Linked DNA regions of Homo sapiens: all the other regions are linked to region 1. Evidence: fine-mapped expression QTL. A gene starts in region 1. Each other region holds a variant in brackets. All regions are shown on one strand. Distances are between the middles of the regions.

The links. PIP is the estimated chance that this variant, and not a neighbour inherited with it, causes the effect.
Region 2: its variant is the best candidate, but not a certain one, in a credible set for the expression of GPR160 in blood mononuclear cells (TOPMed, PIP 0.59).
Region 3: its variant is the best candidate, but not a certain one, in a credible set for the expression of GPR160 in whole blood (INTERVAL, PIP 0.57).

Annotation. Positions count from the first base shown.
Region 1 is chr3:170,036,836-170,039,593 of GRCh38, forward strand. GPR160 (G protein-coupled receptor 160) reads left to right here and starts at 1,160. Exons shown (of 4, transcript NM_014373.3): 1 at 1,160-1,380; 2 at 2,080-2,208. RefSeq lists silencers at 1,135-1,614, 1,925-1,974, 2,135-2,184 and an enhancer at 2,040-2,539.
Region 2 is chr3:170,005,706-170,008,463 of GRCh38, forward strand. No RefSeq gene overlaps it. Among named protein-coding and RNA genes, the nearest start is that of GPR160, 31 kb to the right of the region's middle. RefSeq lists an enhancer at 1,537-1,616. The variant T/C (reference allele first, on the strand shown) is at 1,543.
Region 3 is chr3:170,063,597-170,066,354 of GRCh38, forward strand. The region is part of intron 2 of GPR160 (G protein-coupled receptor 160); the gene reads left to right. Among named protein-coding and RNA genes, the nearest start is that of GPR160, 27 kb to the left of the region's middle. The variant C/T (reference allele first, on the strand shown) is at 1,160.

The DNA.
Region 1 (2,758 bases):
GTGATCTTGGTTCACTGCAACCTCTGCCTCCTGGGTTCAAGTCATTCTCCTGCCTCAGCCTCCCAAGTAGCTGGGACTACAGGCATGTGCCATTACGCCCAACTAATTTTTGTATTTTTAGTAGAGGCAGGGTTTCACCATGTTGGCCAGGCTGGTCTTGAACTCGTGACCTCAAGTGATCCACCCGCCTCGGCCTCCCAAAGTGCTGGGATTACAGGCTTGAGCCACTGCGCTGGCCTAATTGTTCGATATTTTAAATGTTTAAATGACCGGCAAGTCGTAGGTGCTCAACAAATATTTGTTGAATGACAACAAATTAGCACTGTTGACACAAAAAAGGCAATGCAATATATGGGCTATTTAATATTTGCAGATTTTTATTTAAAAATCTGAATTCACAGTACACTGCAGGCGGTTGCTTAGAAGCATACAAGTTTCAAGAAGTTCTGTCACCCTGTGTATACTCTTTTTTTTTTTTTTTTTTTTTTTTTTTTTTTTTTTTGATACGGAGTCTTGCTGTTGCTGCCCAGGCTGGAGTGCAGTGGTGCGGTCTTAGCTCACTGCAACCTCCGCCTCCTGGGTTCAAGCGATTCTCGTGCCTCAGCTTCCCAAATAGCTGGGATTACAGGTGCGTGCCACCAAGCCCGGCTAATTTTTGTATTTTTAGTAGACATGGGGACCAACGTGGACCATGTTGGCCAGGCTGGTCTCAAACTCCTGACCTCAAGTGATCCGCCCACCTTGACCTCCCAAAGTGCTAGGATTACAGGCATGAGCCACCGCCTGGCCACCCTGTGTAAACTCTTATCTGGAGACAACTGCCAAGTTTACATTTGCAGAGGTAAGGGAAGGAGAGGCCCTGACCCAGTGGCCCCCGCTCGCCCGCCTGCTGGGGAGATGGGGAGCTCCTAGGACAGGGGCCGGGTCCTCAAGATGTGGCATGAGGAAGGGGGTCTCACTGAGCCCCCAAGCGGCTCCCGCACTGCGCACCCCTGGCTGCGTCCCTCTGCCAGCCTCAACTCAGCCCTCTCCTAGCCGGCGGGGGGTGACAGTCTCTGTGATATCTTTCCGTCCCGCCGGCAGGCGGCGCCCTCCGGCCCTTGTTTCGTTGGGCCCGGACGGGACGTGCGCGCTCAAAGGTTGCCCGTCTCTGACGCCCGCATTTCCTGGTCTGGAGCCGGCTGAGCCACAGCAGGGTCGCCGCGGGGTCCCGGGGCCGTGCTCCCCTGCCCCTCCCGGGAGCGCGCGGGGCGGGGCGGGGCGGGGCGGGACCAGGCGGGCGAGCTGGGCCCTCGCCCCTCCCTCGGGCGGTCACCTGGGCACGGGCGCTGCAGGTGTCGGGGCCTCAACCTTGCGGAGCCGACAGCCATCGATCCTCGGGTGAGTGCGGGCGCAGGTGGAGGGCGCCCGGCGCTCTCGCCACCGGCGTCCCAGCCTCGGGGCGGCGAACGGTCCCCGCGCCGCTCCCAGCCTCCCTGGCCGGGCGTTCAGCGCGCCTGGGAGGGGAAGGAATTTCCTTTGCAGGAACTCAGGGGCTGGGGGTTCTCTGCTACTTAAGAGATCCAGGAGTGGAGCCCGGACGCCCGAGCCTTCCTGCTTCGGGATGGGGATTACCGCGGAGCCTTAGCAACTGGGGTCTGTCGTGGGTTTGAGGGCAGGGGGTCTGGGGAATGGGCGTGTCCCGCACCCAGAGACTCGCCACCCTCTCTCCAGGGGAGATGCTTTTTAAACATGACAAACCCAGCAAGGTTATAGAAATGGGTGTATGCAACTCTTCGCTCTTTCCTGGCGCCCAGAGGTGAATAGTCTCACACACACGCGCGCGCGCGCGCGTGCGTGCATTCATTGGGGCCGACTTTGCCTCCCCTCCCCTGGCCTCGAGCGTTGGGGACGGCGCCCCCGCCCGCGCCCGCCACTGGGATTAAGCCCCAGGGCCTTGCCCGGCTATTTGTTTTCCGAGGCCGTTGCGTCCGGGTAGGTTCCTGGATGACCATCCTGGCTGGCTCAAAATTCCCTCTAGATTACCTGCGACCACCCCCAGGAACCCGGAGACTGAAACTCCTTTTCTCACCTGCGCAGGTGGCCTCGAGGTGGTGGCAGGGCCGCCCCCTGCAGTCCGGAGACGAACGCACGGACCGGGCCTCCGGAGGCAGGTTCGGCTGGAAGGAACCGCTCTCGCTTCGTCCTACACTTGCGCAAATGTCTCCGGTAAGGGGAAGTGTCGCTTAAATCCCAGAGATAACCCCCACCGAGAAGCATCACAAAAGACATGAACGAGTGTTTAGCTCTCAGGATTGTTATTGCTTCGAGTGAAATGGTTTCTTGTGTGCTTTTGTGCATTTATATATAAATATAAACATATATGTATACATTTGACAAGCTCTAAGACCGGCACTTGTGATATCTCCAGAATAGAGTTATTATAGTTATTTGGAAATTGTCAGTGAGGATCAGCTTGGTTGCTATGCGAATTGCAGGGAGGAGGACCTGTGTGCAGTTTCAAAACGATTTAAGAGAAATTCGGTGGCAATACAAGGTGTGGACGTTGGTTGGATCCTGATTTGATGAATGTTTTTTAAAATGGAGATGATGCCCGAGTGCGGTGGCTCACACCTGTAATCCCAGCACTTTGGGAGGCCGAGGTGGGTGGATCACCTGAGGTCAGGGGTTCGAGACCAGCCTGGCCAACATGGTGAAACCCTTCTCTACTAAAAATACAAAAATTAGCTGGGTGTGGTGACACGCGCCTGTAATCCCG
Region 2 (2,758 bases), 31 kb before region 1:
CCTTCACCTCTCACCTTCTTAAAATTATCTCTTCCAAGCTTGGTGTGGTGGATCCCACCTGTAATCCCAACACTTTGAGAGGCTGAAGCAGGAGAATTGCTTGAGCCCAGGACTTCAAGACCAGCCTGGGCAACATAGTGAGACCCCCCCTCTCTCCCAAAAATAATTTTAAAATTAGCCTGGCATGGTGACATACACCTGTAGTCTCAGCTACTTCAGGAGGCTAAGGCAGAGGATAGCTTGAGCTCAGGAGGTCAAGGTTGCAGTGAGCCATGATCCTGCCACTGCACTCCAGTCTGAGTGACAAAGGGAGACCCTGTCTCAGAATAATAATAAAATAAAATTCTTTCTTCCTTCAGCATCCAGGACATGGCTTTTTTCCTGGTTCTTTTTTTTTTTTTACTTCTGGCCACTCCTTCTTCTCTATTTGCTCCTGAAACTTTGAGTCTCCAAAACTCCTTCCTTGGTACATGCTCATTTGAAACACTCCCTTGGGTAATTACATTCATTTCCTTTGCTTCAAATGTGACCCTCAATCTTTTGCTCCAACCTGGACTTTCACTATGAGTCTCAGTCCCATGGGCACCTCAATATTAACATGTCCAAATGGAACTTTAATGGAACTTTAATCTCCATCCCTGCAGGCCTGCTCCCCTTTCTGACCCTAAGTCACAGCTGACCCAGCTAAAAATTCAGTCATCCTGAGTCCCCACGCATGTATATTAGTCACCAAAGTCTCTTCACTCTACCTCAAAATTATCCTTTACTTACTAAAGTATGTTAAAAGTCTCTTGACTCTACCATCTTGCTTCTCAATTAGCTTAGACCTTTATGATCTCAGGAGGAGAGTGGTAGTAGGCGGGGTTGAGATGGGGTGGATGCAGGAATAACTAAGAAGATAAAGGATGCAAAGGTGGATTGTGGAGAGGGAGAGGACAGAATTTAGGGTGATCCCAGGTTTCTGGCCTGAGCAACTAGATGGACCAAAAGAAAACTGTGAGACTTTAGAAGAGCATCTAGTTTGGTAGTTCAGTGTTGAATATGTTATGTTAAAATGGGACAACCAGATGCAAATGTCCAGCAGGCCACTGATATATATAATAATGTGAAGGTGGGAGAAAGAACAGAATTAGAGCCTCCAGTTGTGGAGTCATCAGATCAACCATCAGCTGGTGGATAAAATCATGAAAGTGGTTGATATTAATAAGAAGGCCAAATAGAGAGGGAAGACTCTTGAGTCAAGGTTGGATCGTGGAGACATCATCATTTCAGAGCAGAGATAGAGAAGCACATCAGGAGGCTGGAGGAAAAACTCCGAGAGGTAAAAGCTAAGCAGGGAAAGCAGTGAGACCAGCCAATGGAGAAAGAGTCAAGAATGAAGCTACTAACAGTGGAGTCAAATGCAGCAGGGATTGCATTGGGCTTTGCGATATGGAGGTCAGTTTAGTGCTTGCAAGAGCAGTTTCATCAGAGGCTGGGGAAGAGCCAGACAGCAGCAAGGTCGAGAGTGAATGAACAGGAAGTGGTGAGATGTGAGCGCAA[T/C]CTTTCAAAATGCCTGGCTGAGAGGGGAAAGAGTAACAATGTAAGTAACTAGAGGGACAGCAGGATTAAAAGAGCCCCTTTTCTCAAGGGTAGGAATGACTTGAACTTGTTCGTGGTGATATTGAAAACCTGAATGCACACAAGAAGGAGAAGCTGGGGAGAGAAACTGAAGACACATGGAAAAAATGGACTGTGTTTGACTGATGGAACTGAGGCCAGAAGAGGTAGACTGAGAAAATCAAGAGTCCTATGTGGGAACTTGCCAGCGTCTGCATTTCAGAGGTCTTCAAGAGCTTCTTCTTTCTCTTTTCTTTCTATTTTAAAAGTTTAATGTTTTTTATTATATTCACGATTCAAAAATAAAAAATTATAAAAGGCGAAACATTTCTTTCTTACCCTGCATCTTCCCAGTTTCCCCTTCCACTTCACCCCCTTCCAGAGTTTCTTTTTTTTTTTGAGACAGAGTCTCACTCTGTCGCCCAGGCTGGAGTGCAGTGGTGCGATCTCAGCTCACTGCAACCTTCGCCTCTGGGTTCAAGTGATTCTTGTGCCTCAGCCTCCCTAGTAGCTGGGATTACAGGCGCCCACCACCATACCCACATAATTTTTGTATTTTTATTTATATTTTTTAATTTATTTTTTAATTATTTATATTTATTTATTTATTTGAGACAGAGTCTCGCTCTGTCGCCCAGGCTGGAATGCAGTGGCGTGATCTCGGCTCACTGCAAGCTCCATCTCCTGGGTTCACGCCATTCTCCTGCCTCAGCCTCCCAAGTAGCTGGGACTACAGGCGCCCGCTACCACGCCCACCTGATTTTTTGTATTTTTAATAGAGACGGGGTTTCACCATGTTAGCCAGGATGGTCTCGATCTACTGACCTCGTGATCTGCCCACCTCAGCCTCCCAAAGTGCTGGGATTACAGGCGGGAGCCACCGCGCCCAGCCAATTTTTGTATTTTTAATAGAGACGGGGTTTTGACATGTTGGGCAGGCTGGTCTCAAACTTCTGACCTCAGGTGATCCGACCGCCCTGGCCTCCCAAAGTGCTGGGATTACAGGCATGAGCCACCGTGCCCAGCCCAGAGTTTCTTTATGCACATATATTAAAGTATAAATATAGGTTCTTATTTTTACTCCCTTCCTTTCCCACTCCTTTTTTAATCCAAAGACACATATTAAATCCCCTTTCTGTAAGTTACTTTTTGTCACTTA
Region 3 (2,758 bases), 27 kb after region 1:
AACGTGAACTAGGAAGCCGCGCGAGTCTCCTCTCTCCGGTGGAAGAGCTGGGACGTGTCCCCCACACCGCGACGAGGTATGAGGAAGACGCTGTCTCCCAAAGGCCTGGACGGGATGGCTCCAAGCTCTTGTTCTCCTAACATCTGGACAGGCGCTCTTTGAAGTGTATGAATATATTTTTAAAAGATTGGGCAGTAAGCTTGTCTTCCCCGTGCTTTCTCGAAAGCTTACTGAGCTCGTGGCCCTGAGCGCGGGCCGGCATAGATTTCCTCTTCCACCCGCTGCGGCTTTTCTGAGCACCTGGAAGCATCGGGGTGTGAAGTCAAACCAGACGTGGGTGAGGAGAGTGTGGCTTGCCTTCCCTGCCGGGCAGAATTTCCTGAAACTGGGCTAATTCTTTGTAGAAATGTGAACGCTGAATTTATTAAAAAATAATAATAAAACACAGGAAACAACTTACATGTACATAGGTCTTGAAGTGAGTGAAGCGGCTGTATTTTTTTGGGGGGGGCATTGCTTTTGTTTTTGTAGAAGAGATTGAGATGATACTCTATTCTAATCAAAATTAGAGATTTGTAGTGGGACCAGAAATTACGTACTTAATACCCCTGCCAGTTTTCCCCGCGTCCTGCTGGGTTGAAAGTTCCAGAGCTGCCGTCTAGGCCTCGTGTTTGTCAGACACCCACGGCTCCTGCGAGGTCGCAGCCATGAGCTGGCGGGGGTGAGTACACAAGCCCAGATCCCCCAACCCGAACTGCGGCTGCCAGCCTCAGAGAAAGGCGCCCAGGTGTGCGGGCAGGGCCGAGACCCCCGGGAATCTAAGATAGGCCAAGGTTTTCACCTAGACTGTCAAGGCTGGAGGAGTAGGTGGCGGCCTCGACCCTCCCTACACGGGACCCATTCTTTTCTTTTCTTTTCTTTTTTTTTTTTTTTTTTTTTTGAGGCAGAGTCTCACTCTGTCGCCCAGGCTGGAGTACAGTGGCACAATCTCGGCTCGCTGCAATCTCCACCTCCCGCGTTAAAGCGATTCTTCTGCCTCAGCCTCCTGAGTAGCTGGGACTACAGGCACATGCCACCGCGCCTGGCTAATTTTTTGTATTTTTAGTAGAGACGGGGTTTCACCATGTTGGCCAGGCTGGTCTCAAACTCCTGATCTCGT[C/T]ATCCGCCCGCCTCGGCCTTCCAAAGTGCTGGGATTACAGGCGTGAACCACCGCACCCAGCTATGCAGGACCCATTCTTACTGAGTGAGACTCGGGAGTCATGACCTGGTGTCTCCTGCCCACCCTGGTCCCAGGTAAATCTGAATGGAAGCAGGTATGAGAGCCTGTCCTCGCCTTTGATTCCCCCACCCCACCCTGGGCCTCACAACGGTGCTACCTAAGAAAGTCTCTTCCCCCAGTCAGCCTGGTGAGTGGTCAGCCGAAGAGGATCTGACGGGAGTGTAGATGTGAGATAGTATCTTTGTTGTACCTGTTTGTGGTTTAGCTTTGTATTTAAACAAATGAGGAAATAAACTTGAAAATTATTTGTCATCATAAAGTTGAAACAAAAATTATTTTAAAAAATAAAGTTTTATTTTAAAATAAAATAGCTAATGAGTATCGTACATTACAATTACATTTCCTTTCTAAACTTTTTTGTTTTCCTTTCAGTTATCTGTCTGCTTTTTTTTCTATATACTTATCGCTAATTCAACCACAGACTCTTCTCTTTTGTGTAAATCTTTTGGTATGTTCAAAGATATTTGGAATTTCCACCTTCCTGGAGGAATTTCTCCCATAGCCATGTGCCCTACTCTAATTTAGATTGTGCACTCTGGATCTGATGCCTAGATAATCTTCACCAACCTCGGAATCCTCGAATTGTACTCTACATGGTTTTTCTTCTCTTCTAATGCATCCCATTTCCTGGACCGCATGTATTGCTCTCCTAGTTTATTATTCCTCATTCTGATGACGTATGCCTTTCTTTCATTGGCTTCCTAAGAACTTCATGTGAGTAAAACATTTTTGAGTATGTGGCTTCATTTTATACCTACACTTAATTGACCATTTAGTTTGGTGTAGAATTCTATGTTGGAAAGTTTCTTTCATGAAATATTAAAAAGCTTTTTAAAGTAAACTAAATACTTAAATTATTTGTGTAATTGAGAATTGTACCAATTTGTAGATAACTTGTTTTTTTCCTTACTCAATGTGTTTAATTTTTTGAATACTTAATACAGTCACATGTTTAGCAGAATGTTCATAGTAGGAAAAAAAATGTACTGAAGTCTTCATCTCATTCATGACCCCATCTGCCAAGTTCCTACCCCTGTAACCACTGTCTTTAACTTTTTTTTTTAAGAGATGGGGTCTCGCTATGTTGCCCAGACTATACTCAAACTACTGGGTTCAAGCAATCCTCCTGCCTCAGCCTCCTGAGTAGCTGGGATATAGGCATGCACACATGCCCAGTGCTCACTTTTTAAGTGTCCTTCCAGGGTTTCTTCATGTATATATAGAAGATTACTTGACACTATTCTTTTTCTTTTTCTTTTTTTTTTTTTTTTTTTTTTTTTTTTGTGACAGAGCCTCGCTCTGTCACCCAGGCTGGAGTCCAGTGGCACGATCTCGGCTCCCTGCAAGCTCTGCCTCCCGGGTTCACGCCATTCTCCTGCCTCAGCCTCCCGAGTAGCTGGGACTACAGGCGCCCATCACCACGCCCGGCTAATTTTTGGTATTTTTAGTAGAGACGGGTTTCACCATGTTAGCCAGGAT